Linked DNA regions of Homo sapiens: all the other regions are linked to region 1. Evidence: fine-mapped expression QTL. A gene starts in region 1. Each other region holds a variant in brackets. All regions are shown on one strand. Distances are between the middles of the regions.

Region 1 (4,222 bases):
TTAAAAATCAGCTGGGCATGGTGGCATGTGCCTGTGGTACCAGATACTCAGGAGGCTGAGATGGAAGGATTACTTGAGCCCAGGAGGCGGAGGCTGCAGTAATCCGAGATTGCGCCACTGCACTCCAGCCTGGGTGACAGAGCAAGGCCCTGTCCCCAAAAAAAACCAAAAACACACATACACACAAAGAAATCAAGCTAAGATTCTGAACCTTGATAAAAGCCACAGGCAGAAACTACTATCTAAATCAAGACAGAAGAAAATCTTCTGGAGTCAAGGCACACAGAAATTCACAAGACTTCAACGCTCAAAGCCAAACACTGATTGCCTGATGGCCTCACAGCCCTGCTCTAAGGAGCCCAAACTAGCAATCACAGGGTTACATGAGGAAGGAACCTCGAGTCTCTAGAAGATTAAAATAAGAAGATGCAGTAAAAAGGAGGCTTATAGCCATGGGACATCTCACCGATTCTCGGAAGCCATCATACTTGTAGACATGGCCATTCTTTGTAAGCAGTTTAAGTCCATGGCCCAGAGCAACACGGCGCCAGATACCTTCTGTTAACTCCCCAGCCTGGATGTTGTCCACTTTGCCTGTCTTGCTATTCTTGAAGATGATGCCCTGACGGCTCAACCTCAGTCGACCATCATTCTGTAAGAAAAGCAGGCCCAGATGCATGGAGACAGTACACAGCATGTCCTGGGTTCTACAGCTCTACCTAACACACATTCCTGCTGCAAGTGGACTGGCCAGATTATCAATGCAGGAGCAACAGCTGAGGGTGCCAAGGAGTCTAGATTCTAAACCAGACTCTGGTATCTAGAACCCTTAACAGATTCTCAGTTTCCTCATTTGTAAAACAGGAATTGGGAACTGAACAGCATATACGGTCCCTATAACTCTGAGACTATCTCTCAGTATTGCCTTGAGTTGGTGGAGACACTAGGTACACATTATACTGAGTCTTCTTTTTCCAAAATAACGTTACCAAAGCAAGCTCTCATTAATGGACAAAAACTCTACCCTCCTTCCTTCTCTCTACTTGTATCACCTGTCCAAGCCATTCTCACCATGGAACCTTTCACCTCCTGATAGACGTCGTTGAACTCCAGTGTCTCTGCCATGTCGACCCCTGCCTGTGGTGGCCTGGGCAGAGCCCCAGGCTGCACAAGGGAAACCAAGTAAACTGGGAGCTGGGCCCCAACTCCTGAGTGGGTGTGCGGATGCTCAGCAGGTTGGGAATCTGAATTCAAGAGGAAGACAGATAAGCATGAAAGACAGCACCTCGCTGTGCTCACGGATGGAGCCAGGTAGCAACTCCCAGCTGCGCCTGGATGTCTCAGGATTTCCTCTGCCTGGAAACCTACAGACGGACGCTGCAGTGCCCGAGGGTCCAGGTCCAGGCCTGGGTGGAGAACCGGGCCCGGAATACCGCTGACACCCAACCCGACGCCCGCTCTGGCCGCTCCGGCGGGAGCCATGGCAACGAGCAGCGGAACCCCAGGGTCTGCCAGGAGCCCGCACATCGCACGCGACCCAATCCAGCTCAGAGTGCAGGGTTTCCCTCGCACCGCTCCCACCACCCCGCGGCCCCAGACCCACGGTTCACCCCCGCCCCACATAATGGATTCGCCCGCTCCCCGCGGTTGCGAACGCGGAATGGTCCATGTCGAGGGTCCCGTGGGGGAGCGGGGCCCCTGCCTTCCTGGGACCGGGGACGACCACCACCTACCTCCTCAGGCTGCGGCCTCGCGAGGGCCCCGGCGCGAGAGGTGGGCGCGCTGGGGGGACGCGGGGGGGGCGCGGGGAGGGGGATGGGGGGACACCGGGGAAGCTTTTCCCGCGTGCGCGGCCCCGCGTCCCGCCACCGGAAGCCGTACACAGGCCACAGAGAGGATGAGCTGGCTAGAGAGACGCGAGTCGGGCCCGCCTGCGAGACAGTCGCATAGAGCGTCAGCGACTCTGGAGGACCTGAGGGAAGGGTGGTTGCCGTGAAGCCTCTCTCACCCAGGGGGAATCCGGCCTAGAAAATGTGTGTAGGGCTCTTTAGAAACTACAGACACTTCTTCAGTCGAGACTAGATACTAAAGAGAAATTGTGTAGTTTTATTGTATCAGACTTAGTACAGGGGTGGGGTGGGGGTGTGTATTGGAATGATGCGTGCCCGTTTCTCTGCAAAATAGTTTCTATGTCATGGAAAGGAGTCGATGGGACAAGAAGAGAAGTATTTGAACAGTTGTGGGAGGAAACGACCTCTCCCACTGGCTGCGGAGAGTATGCGGGTGTTGGTGTCATCGTGGGTGCACTGCTTTCTGGCTGAACTGTCAAGTTCACTGTCTACACCCAAAATTTTCACATCCTTAACCGAAAATTATAGGTACCTCCAAGAGGCTGGCAAACGGCCTTATCCAGTTCAAGTCCTGGTGTCAGATTCACCTTGGAGCCAGAACTGATTTGAAACCACATCATCCTGTGGTTGCGGAAGCCAGGTCTCCCCCGTATAATCCCAGAGTGCATTTTGCAACATCAGAGACCAGACCTGGAAAAGATGTTTTAGTTTTTCTACCCCAACCTCCTTTTACTGATGGGAAAACTGAGACCCAAAGGGGAGTGAGTTGCCCAGGGTCTCAGTGCGTTGGCAACAAGGCTAGGTAGGACCCAGACCTCCTTAACACCACCAGTCCAGTTATCTTCTGTCATAATCACAGTGACTGTATGTTCAGAATGACTATTGATATGTGTCCTACATGAAGACATTAGTACAGAATATGTAAGCTCAAGATTTCCCTGACAATCAATACACCAGCTTGCTAAATCAATCCTGGGGTAAGAGACAACAGGAATGCACCCTTCTCCCCTGAACTCATAGCTTTAACCTCTGAGTAGTGGCTATTCCAGCATTATCTAGCAAAATAAATTCAACTGGGTTTAATAAATAGATATTGAGGGCCTATTACTACTTTAGCACACTTCTCAGATTTGAGGAAACTTGAACAAGGTGAAAACATCCCCGGCCAGGCACGGTGGCTCACACCTGTAATCCTAGCACTTGGGGAGGCCAAGGCAGGGAGATCACTTGAGGTCAGGAGTTTGAGACCAGACTGGCCAACGTGGTGAAGCCCCGTCTCTATTAAAAATACAAAAATTAGCCAGGCGTGGTGGCGGGTGCCTATAATCCCAGCTACTCAGGAGGCTGAGGCATGAGAATTGCTTGAACCCAGGAGGCAGAGGTTGCAGTGAGCTGAGATTGTGCCACTGCACTCCAGCCCGGGTGACAGAGCGAGACTCTGTCAAAAAAAAAAAAAAAAAGAAAGAAAGAAAAAGAAAAAAAAAAGGAAGGGAAGGAAAGAAAGAAAAAAAAAAAAAACAGAAAAAAAAACCCAGCCCCAACCTTTCAGGAAAACATAATCTAACAAATGACTTTAATAAATAAAGTGACAGTTAAAAAAAAAAGAAGTTGGCACATATACACCGTGGAATACTATGCAGCTGTAAAACAGGATGAGTTCATGTCCTTTGCAGGGACATGGATGAAGCTGGACTCCATCATTCTGAGCAAATTATCACAAGGACAGAAAACCAAACACCGCATATTCTCACTCATAGGTGGGAATTGAACAATGAGAACACTTGGACACAGGGTGGGGAACATCACACACACCAGGGCCTGTCGCGGGGTGGGCGGAGTGGGGAGGGATAGCATTAGGAGATATACCTAATGTAAATGACGGGTATATTTACAGTTAACGGGTGCAACACACCAACATGGCACACGTATACATATGTAACAAACCTGCACGTTGTGCAGGTTTACCATAGAACTTAGAGTATAAGAATAATAATAAAAAGAAAACAAAACAAAAAAGACGTGCTAACTGCTATGCTACAGGTAGAGCGAAGCTCATTACCAGCTGGAGTTAGAAATATGTGACTCTTTACTCATCACACCCCAGAAGACCCAGAAAAACTTTCAAGAGACCTTTTCCCCCTGACCCATGCCACTGGGGGCAACTCAGGAAAGGAGGGGACGGCGCAGAACTGGGTGGAATTTGGCAGACACTCAGGAATGAAGAGGGTCCTTAGCTCAGGCAGGCTATTAGGTGACTGGGGGATGGGAAATTGCAAGGGGCTTTAGGGAGAGTGTGAGCAGCTGGTGAGCTGGGATGAGGATGCTGCAGAAGAGAACAGAACAGAAACAGTAGACAGAGTGCAGATAAAACA
Region 2 (4,222 bases), 21 kb before region 1:
AGCGAGCCCCCCAGCTTCTCCTGGTCCTGACTGGGTGACTGGAGCACACCTTCAGAGAATCGGCGCTGAACCAGGCTGGTGGGGCGGAGGTGTGCGTCACCCTTGGCCTCCTCCTCCCCGCCAGATGGAAACGTCCGAGTGAGATCCAGCAACTCACCCACCTCGATCAGGGGCCGGGGTGAGGTGGCAGGGGGCTGATCCAGGCTATGGGGCTCCAAGACCTCAGGGGGTGGGCTGCTGGGTCTGGGGGCCTCTGGAGCCCCCTCGGCAGGGAGCCCCGGGCTGGGGGTGTGGCGGGAGCCCTCGTCAGGCAGGGCTGCACTTGGAGCTGATGGAGTCACAGCGGGGCAGGGAGAAGCCTGGGAAGCTTCAGGAGTCTGGGCTTCCAGAAGCTGTGAGTGGCAGGGAGAACTCTTATCAGGCGGGTGAAGATGGGGAGAGCCAGGGCCTGAGCCTGAGGCTTCTGCGGGGAGGCCTGGGCTGGCAGGGCCTCCATTCTCTGAGGAGGGGGCTGGACTTGAGGGAATCCAGGGCTTGGAAATCTGCAAGAGAAAGAAAGGTCAAGATCCGTCACTCACCTCTCAGCGGGGCGGGGAGGGTCCCCTCCGACCCCACACAGACCCCAGGTCAGCTTCTCCCAGGCTGGGAGGAGGCAACTGGAACCCGAGGGGGTCCTCTTGGGATAGCTGGGAGGGGCCCCACAGACGACTCAAGGCAGGACTTCTCACAGAGCCCCCTTTAGACCTTCTTCCCCAGAATGCGCCTATCCTTATTCACAAAGCATAATTCCTTTCGTCTCAGGTGGTTGGAACCCCTCACCCACTCAACCCAAAGCTCATGTGAGGATCTCCTCAGAGGCCACAGTTCGGGGTCCATAACACCTGCTTTATAAAGGGAAAAGGAACATTGTGAATCTGGCTCTTGAAGCACCTCAGCATGTGGGAGTCGTGAGGGGAGAGAGGGTTTCGCGTCCAAGCAGGATTCGAGGTGCAGTGCAGCTACAGAGCAGCTCGGGGGAGTGGCTACAGCGTGCAGGGGGTGCCCCTCATGGCACAGAAGGTGCCAAGGAAGCAGGAAGGCTATGGGACCCAGGCAAAAGGCACTGGGGGGTGTGACAGCGCCTGGCTTGAGCCGTCCCAGCACTGCCTCTTACCAGCATGTGCCCTCCCTCACATATGGCAGACACTTGGTCTCTCTGAGCCTCAGCTTCCCCATCTGTACATTAGGGCTGGTGGCAACAATGCTCATCTCCCAGTTAGGTGAGGGTGAAGGGAAATGTGTGCACTGGCCCCTCGGCATAGGACTCATGGGATGATGGCGGCAGAGAGTGGGGAGGACGTGGAGAGAAGAGGGGGACAAACAAGGCACCAAGCACCTGGCACTCCACCTGTCCCCAGACAATGAAGTGACTCTGGCTCCATCTGACCTTTGCCCTCTGCAGAGGTCACACTTCCCTGGCCGCCCTCTCCCATGTCGTTAATTCTCCCACATCATCACCTACTAGGCCTGGGCAAAATAAAGGGTCCTGCTTGCTTCTCAAGGTCCCTTCTGTTCCCTCCATGCTCACTCCCCTCTGCAACGTTCTAATGTCAAAGCTCGTGCCCTTAAACTACAGCACCCACAATTCTTTCTTGTTATTGACCCTTACGCACCCATCATTCCTTGAAAACCATAACCGCTGCATCACTGCAACCCTCTCCATCATTGTTGTGATAGCTTACAGTCATCTCCATAGCCAGATGCGACCCTTCCAGCCTCTGGTTCGTTGACCTCCTCTTCCTCAGTGACTGTGCGACCCATCCTCTCAAGGTCACACCCTAGACCTCATCCTTACCAGTGGCTGCAACCTCTGCATCATCTCAATCCCAAGTATCCCACTTGCCCACCCCCACCGCCTATCTGACCGGCTCACTCTATTTCCCCAACGCCCTTATTTTCAGCCCCTCTCATAGCACAGCCCCTTAACCCTAATTCTTTCTCATTGTCCCCCACTCCCCTCATACCCTCACCTCTCTTCTTATCACCATTAACGTCACTTTTTACTCAACACTCAACTCCCTCATCTGCTTCATCA[T/C]ACTGTTTAACCTGTTTAAATACAGCTCTCCAATACAGCTGGGCCAATCCTAGCCCAGCACCTGAGTAGCTGCATGTGGCTGGATAAAAACACACAATCGTGACAGCTGGTCTCACTCCAGATTCACTGCTGACCTCAAGCCGGCCCTAGAGCTGCCCAGAATCCCACGGCACTCCCCCTGCCATTCACTCCATGACTCTCCCAGGCAATGTTTTAGCATCTTCTCCCGTCAGACCTCCACACCTCCCCCAATCCTCTCTCAGCTGATGGCCTTGCTTCCTGTTCCCTGAGAACACAGAGGCCACCAGCAGAGAACCCCCGACAACCCCCCCACCGCCACACACACACACACCACCTACTTCCTGCATGGGAGCCCAAGCACTCTGCCTCCCCTTCTGCTATCAGGCACTGTCCTCGCTTGGGGCTGAGGTCAATCCCTCCTCTCTCTCCTGCATCGATTTTTTTTTCCCTCTCTACTGGATCATTTCCATCAGCACACAAACTGCTCTAATTTCTTCTGTCTTGAAAAGCCAAAAAAGCAAACCAAAAAACCACTCTTGACCCCACATCACTCACTAGCTACCATCCATTTTCTTGAAAGCCCTGTCTATATTCACTATTAATATCCACAGTTCTTCTTGTCCCCTTCTCTCTTGAAACCACTCCAAACAGGCTTTCTCCTTTACCTTGCCACCTAACTACTCTCGTCAAGGTCACGGATGACCTCCCTGGAGCTGAATCCAATTCTCTGTGCTCATCTTACTTGACCTGTCAGTGGCATCTGACAGCTGATGGCGCCCTCCCCCAGTCCTGGAGGCTGTCTCCACTTGGTGGACTCTCTCACTGTCCTCCCAGTCTCCTTGGCTGTGCCTCTGGGCCCTCCCCTCCTGCACCATCCCCACTCTCAGTAATCTCAGCCAGTCTTCACAAGCATTCCTACTCTGACAATTCCCAAGTGTTCCTTTCAAATTTGCTCACTTCCCTTGAAGGCCAGACTCGACTACCCAACCATCCGCTTGACGTTTCCACATGGATGTCTGAAAACCATCTCAAATTCAACAAATCCACAAAGCAAACTCCTCCCATCTCCCCCGATCCTGCTTCACCCTTAGAAGTCCCCGTCTCGGCAACCATAAACTCATCCTTCCGGTTGCTCAGGCCAAAAGCCGTGGGGTCACCCTTGATTCTGTGCTCTCTATCTATCTGAAAGTCCTTTCCACCATGCCTTCAAATTCTATCCAGAACCAACCACTTCTCCCCATCTCCACCGTAGGCTACCTCCAGGGTCCAAGCCGTCATCATCTCTCACTTGGACTATTCCAACAGCCCCCTGACTGGTCCATGCTGCTGATCTTACCTCCCTGCAACTGATTCTTAATCCAGTGGGCCAGGTGACTCTTCACAACTAAGACAGCAGCATCCCATGCCTCTCCTGCAAACCCTTCAAATGGCCTGTTGCTCTCACTGAAGCCAAAGTCTTTCTAGAGGCCTTCGAGACTTGACACAATCCAACCCCCCAACCCGTTGGTCCTCACTACCACCTAACTCCTCTCTCACTGCCAGGCAGACATCCTGGCCTCCTTGCCAGGAAAGCACCAATGCCTTTGTACTTGCTGTGCCCTCTACCAAGAATGCTGCTCTCCAGACATGCACACAGCTCAGCCTCTGCCCTTCACAGTGACACCTTCCCTGACCACACTCGTCCCTGCACTCTCTACTCTACCTTCACAGCTATCTCCAACATCCAGCTCCTAACAGGCGCTCAGTCACTGCTTGCTGGATGGACAAATGAATCAAGTCAGATCTCCAGCTAGCAAGGGCTGTATGAGCAAAAAGGGCCATCCTGTACCTTGTTTACTCAAGAAAGCAGGCTGACCATCTTCAAGAACGGGAGTATGATGGGAAAATCTCAGCAAAAGGACTCACCCCTCTTCTGAACTCAGAAAAGGCAGCCCAGCCAGGGAAAGCATGGGAGGCAGACACAGTAGCTGCTGCCTCAGCCTAAGTTACTTACCCTTTGTGAGTACAGGTGCTCTCATCTCTCACATGGGACTAACCAGGTCTACTAGCCAGAGTTATCACAAGGATTGAGTTGGTTAACGTTCCCAGGACAGGCCCAGCACATAGTAGGGACTTAATCAATGGCAG
Region 3 (4,222 bases), 42 kb before region 1:
TGTAGCTGGGTCTGCATTTTTCAAATGGTCTATGAGGAATACTTACTGCTTTTGACATCAGAAAAAAAATTCAATGAACATTACTTTTTAAAAAAATGAATAGATGTTAGGCTCTTTGGAGACAGTACTATATACATAAAAGTATAACTAGAATCGTCCTTGGACAGCAACTAAAACCCATTTTATCGGCCGGGCGTGGTGGCTCACACCTGTAATCCCAGCACTTTGGGAGGCCAAGGCGGGCAGATCACTTGAGGTCAGAAGTTCAAGACCAGCCTGACCAACATAGTGAAACCCCATCTCTACTAAAAATACAAAAATTAGCTGGGCATGGTGGTGGGTGCCTGTAATCCCAGCTACTCAGGAGGCCGAGGCAGGAGAATCTCGTGAACCCAGGAGGCGAAGGTTGCAGTGAGCCAAGATCGTGCCATTGCACTCCAGCCTGGGCAAAAGGAGTGAAACCATGTCTCAAAAAAAAAGGCCAGGCGCAGTGGCTCATGCCTGTAATCCCAGCATTCTGGGAGGCTGAGGTGGGAGGATCACAAGGTCAGGAGATTGAGACCATCCTGGCTAACGCAGTAAAACCCCATCTCTACTAAAAATACAAAAAATTACAATTAGCTAGGCGTGGTGGTGGGCACCTGTAGTCCCAGCTACTCGGGAGGCTGAGGCAGGAGAATGGTGTGAACCTGGGAGGCGGAGCTTGCAGTGAGCAGAGAGCACGCCACTGCACTCCAGCCTGCGCAACAGAGCCAGACTCCGTCTTAAAACAAAACAAACAAAAAACAAAAAAACACCTTATCGCTCTGCACCCAGGGCCTGGCACTCTCCCCGGGGGAGGGCGGTGTGCTTCTGAACCTGCCAGCATTTTTTCTATCTATGATACACTTGCTGACAGAGGTCAAAGGGCTATCCTGGGTAAGCCCACACTGCTGGCTCAAGAGGCCCCAGGCAAATCAGCCCCAGGAAAATCTCGTCCATCAGCTTCTAGGCCAAGCCTCAGCCTGCTCTGTGTCATCAGTCTGGGAGGCAGGAAGACTGCAAAGGGTTCTCAGTTCACCATACGAACAAAAGACAAGACGAGACTCGCCAGGAATGTGTGGTTTGTCCCAGGCACTTTGTCCTGCATCCAGACCTCAAGCAGTCAGATAAAGCTGATTCTTTATTTTTGCACTTCTTTTAAAGCTCAGGCTCAGAGAGAGAGTCCCCAGCTCACAAGAGTCAGAAGCAGGATATAAACTCTGATCTACTCACTCCAGAGCTGCCCGCAAGAAGGACACCTGTCTCTACCCATCTCGGGAATGTGCCATGACCACAGCAGATGGCTGGACTACGTTTAGGAGACAGGATGCTGGAGAAAGGAAGTGTCAAGCAGTGGGCAGCACCCTTCAGACCTCCCCTGACACCAACCACCACCACCCCAATACTGAGGGCTCCATGGACAAAGGCCAGCTCGTTCTTGGGCCCAAACACCAGTTGCAGCTCCTGGATCCTGGGAAACGTGGGAGAGCACCAGTGACTGCTCCCTGGGCTCCACTGCTGTTCCATTCCCAAGGGCATCCTCCATCATCCTGGTGTCCAATTCCTAGGCAGACAGGCCCTCCCCTTGCTGAGGACCTCCAAAGCAGGGGCCAGGAGAGAGACGGTGCTGAGACATTTCTCACTGTAATTGCATTGGGACCAGATCCTTTCTCTCTCTGAGAGTTGGCAACAAGAACCCCCTGGGAGGAACAACAACTCAGCTTTCTAACAGGTAGCCTTCTTTTTTTTTTTTTTTTTTTTTTGAGATGGAGTCTCAGTCTGTCGCCCAACCTGGCATGATCTTGGCTCACTGCAACCTCTGCCTCAAGCAATTCTCTCACCTCAGCCTCTGGAGTAGCTAGGATTACAGGCGCACGTCACCATGCCTAGCTAATTTTTGTATTTTTAGTAGAGATGGGGTTTCATCATGTTGGCCAGGCTGGTCTCGAACTCCTGACCTCAACTGATCCACCCGCCTTGGCCTCCCAAAGTGCGGGTAGTACAGGTGTGAGCCACCGTGCCCGGCCACAGGTAGCCTCTCTAAAAGGC[C/CT]TTTTTTTTTTTTTTTTTAATACAAACACTGAGATGTTGGCTTCAAAGTGGTCCCCTGAAAGGCTGTCCAGTTATTCTAGTGACTTCTCCAGAGCTCATTCAACTCTTCAGAAATTGCCTTCAGGGCAACCTTTGACCAAAATTGGTCAACCTGCTTGATTGTCCAAAGTATTCCCCAATACGGGTAGCCAAAGAACTTTCAGCTATTTCCAAAATCCAAATCCAGGTTCAAAAGACCAAGACCTGCCCCTCTGAGGCTGCTCCCGAGAACCCTGGGCATAGTCTGAGAAAGGGCTGCATGGCAGACATATCATTACTTTCTCAGTTGTGTTATTGGTCAGACACCTGCCTTTAGGGTCAAAGCTTGTGTGTGTTGGCTTCCTCTCTCCCTGACTCCCAACAAAGGCTCTGAACCATTCCCCAGATGTTGGCAGAGTGTGAGACACCCTCCTCTGACTTCCCTAGAAGCATGGCCCCCTGCCTCTTCTCCCTCCCAGCACAGAGCCCCTGTGCTGGGATCAGCCCAGGCTCCATTTGTTCCTCTAATGAGTCTTAAGTATTTGGCTTGGGCTCCTGCCAGTCCTACTCCTACAGAGAGGAGGGAGTGGGAAGAATGGGACAAAGCTCATGCCAGCTCAGTTCTGCTGGGCCCTGGGCAGACTGGCACAGGGGCTGCCTGGCCCAGACCCACCCAGGGGTGCAGCCAGGAACCCATTTGAGGCCCACAGCCTTTCTTTACCCTCCACTTCAGGGGCTTCCCACAGTGCAGATTCCTGGGCATACTTCCTGGGTTGGAATCCTGGGGTGAGGCTCAGGAATGTGCATTTTTAATAAGCACCTCAGGAGATTGTGATGCATAATGAAGATTAAAAACCAGTGTTCCAGAAAGTCAATGACAGGGATTCAGGCTGGCTGGTGAAATTGTGTATATGTGCATTTTTCTAGAGTCCACAGTTGTCAAATTCTCACATTAGGTCAATAGTCCCCATAACCCTTTAAAAGTTTTTTAAAAACAAGCCCGATGTGGTAGCTCACAGCCTATAATCCCAGCATTTTGGGAGGTAGAGACAGAAGGATAGCTTGAGGCCAGAAGTTCAAGACCAGCCTGGGCAACATAGCAAGACCCCATCTCTACAGATAATTTAAAAAAATAATAACTTAGCTGGGCATGGTGACACATACCTGTAGTCCCAGCTACTCAAGAGGCTGAGGCTCAAGGATCACTTGAACCCAGGAGCTTGAGGCTGCTGCAGTGAGCCATGATCATGCTACAGCACTCCAGCCTGGGTGACAGTGCAAGAGGCCATCTCTAAAAAAAATTAAAAATTAAAACAAAAGGCTAAGAAGCACTAGTAAATGAGATGATTCCTAAGTTCAGTTGTAGCTCTGACCTGCCACAACTTGGTGACCCTGTTCAGGCCCCCATCAGGGCAAGCCCCCAGGATGCTCTCCTTTTACCAAATCTCAGAGAAAGACAAGGCTGGCCTTGAAAAAGGCTGGCAAGTCTGGGGGAAACCAGGATGACATAGAACTAGGCTGAGGGACAATAGGATGGCAATGGCCATGGGCTTGGGTGAGAAATGACACAGGTTAGGGGAAATTCTAGAATACCTGGGCTGAAAGGACCCTTAGATATCAATGAAGGCAAACCTCTGGCAAGAGGGGTAAATTTTTACCAATGTCAGGTCCTCTCTCTCTGGCCACATAGCTAAACCTCATTTCTCACTCCCCTGCAGTTGGCGGAGGTAATGAGTTGAATTCTGCCCAGTGGAATGTGGATCTCTGCTATGGTCTGGATGTTTGTGTCTCCCCAAAATCCTAGCCCCTAAGGTGATAGGTTTAGGAAGTGGAGCCTTTTGGGAGGTAATTAGGTCATGAAGGTGGAACCCTCATGAATGGGATTAGTGTCCTTACAAAAGAGACCCCAGAGAGCTCCCTTGCCCTTTCCACCATATGACAGTGAGAAGGCACTATCTATGAACAGGATGGGTGATATGGTTTGGCTCTGTGTCCCCACCCAAATCTCATCTTGAATTGTACTCCCATAATTCCCACATGTTGTGAAAGGGACTCAGTGGGAAGTAATTGCATCATGGGGGCAGTTTCTCCCATACAGTTCTCGTGGTAGTGAATAAGTCTCACGAGATCTGAT

Direction of the effects. Positions count from the first base shown, and alleles are read on the strand shown. Sizes are in standard deviations (SD) of each study's normalised expression. Not every link is listed here.
With allele C in place of T in region 2, the expression in esophagus muscle of the gene that starts at base 1,896 in region 1 is lower (small effect, 0.12 SD a copy in GTEx).

The links. PIP is the estimated chance that this variant, and not a neighbour inherited with it, causes the effect. A credible set is the group of variants that fine-mapping cannot tell apart.
Region 2: its variant is the best candidate, but not a certain one, in a credible set for the expression of SSRP1 in esophagus muscle (GTEx, PIP 0.69).
Region 3: its variant is the best candidate, but not a certain one, in a credible set for the expression of SSRP1 in whole blood (INTERVAL, PIP 0.53).

What each region holds. Positions count from the first base shown.
Region 1 is chr11:57,333,997-57,338,218 of GRCh38, forward strand. SSRP1 (structure specific recognition protein 1) reads right to left here and starts at 1,896. Exons shown (of 17, transcript NM_003146.3): 1 at 1,734-1,896; 2 at 1,072-1,244; 3 at 467-652. The coding sequence starts at 1,125. It also overlaps a transcript of P2RX3 not described here. RefSeq lists enhancers at 1,065-1,134, 1,985-2,034 and a silencer at 1,635-1,814.
Region 2 is chr11:57,313,348-57,317,569 of GRCh38, forward strand. TNKS1BP1 (tankyrase 1 binding protein 1) reads right to left here. Exons shown (of 12, transcript NM_033396.3): 5 at 1-542. Among named protein-coding and RNA genes, the nearest start is that of TNKS1BP1, 9.5 kb to the right of the region's middle. The variant T/C (reference allele first, on the strand shown) is at 2,075.
Region 3 is chr11:57,292,173-57,296,394 of GRCh38, forward strand. No RefSeq gene overlaps it. Among named protein-coding and RNA genes, the nearest start is that of TNKS1BP1, 31 kb to the right of the region's middle. RefSeq lists a silencer at 4,209-4,222. The variant C/CT (reference allele first, on the strand shown) is at 2,071.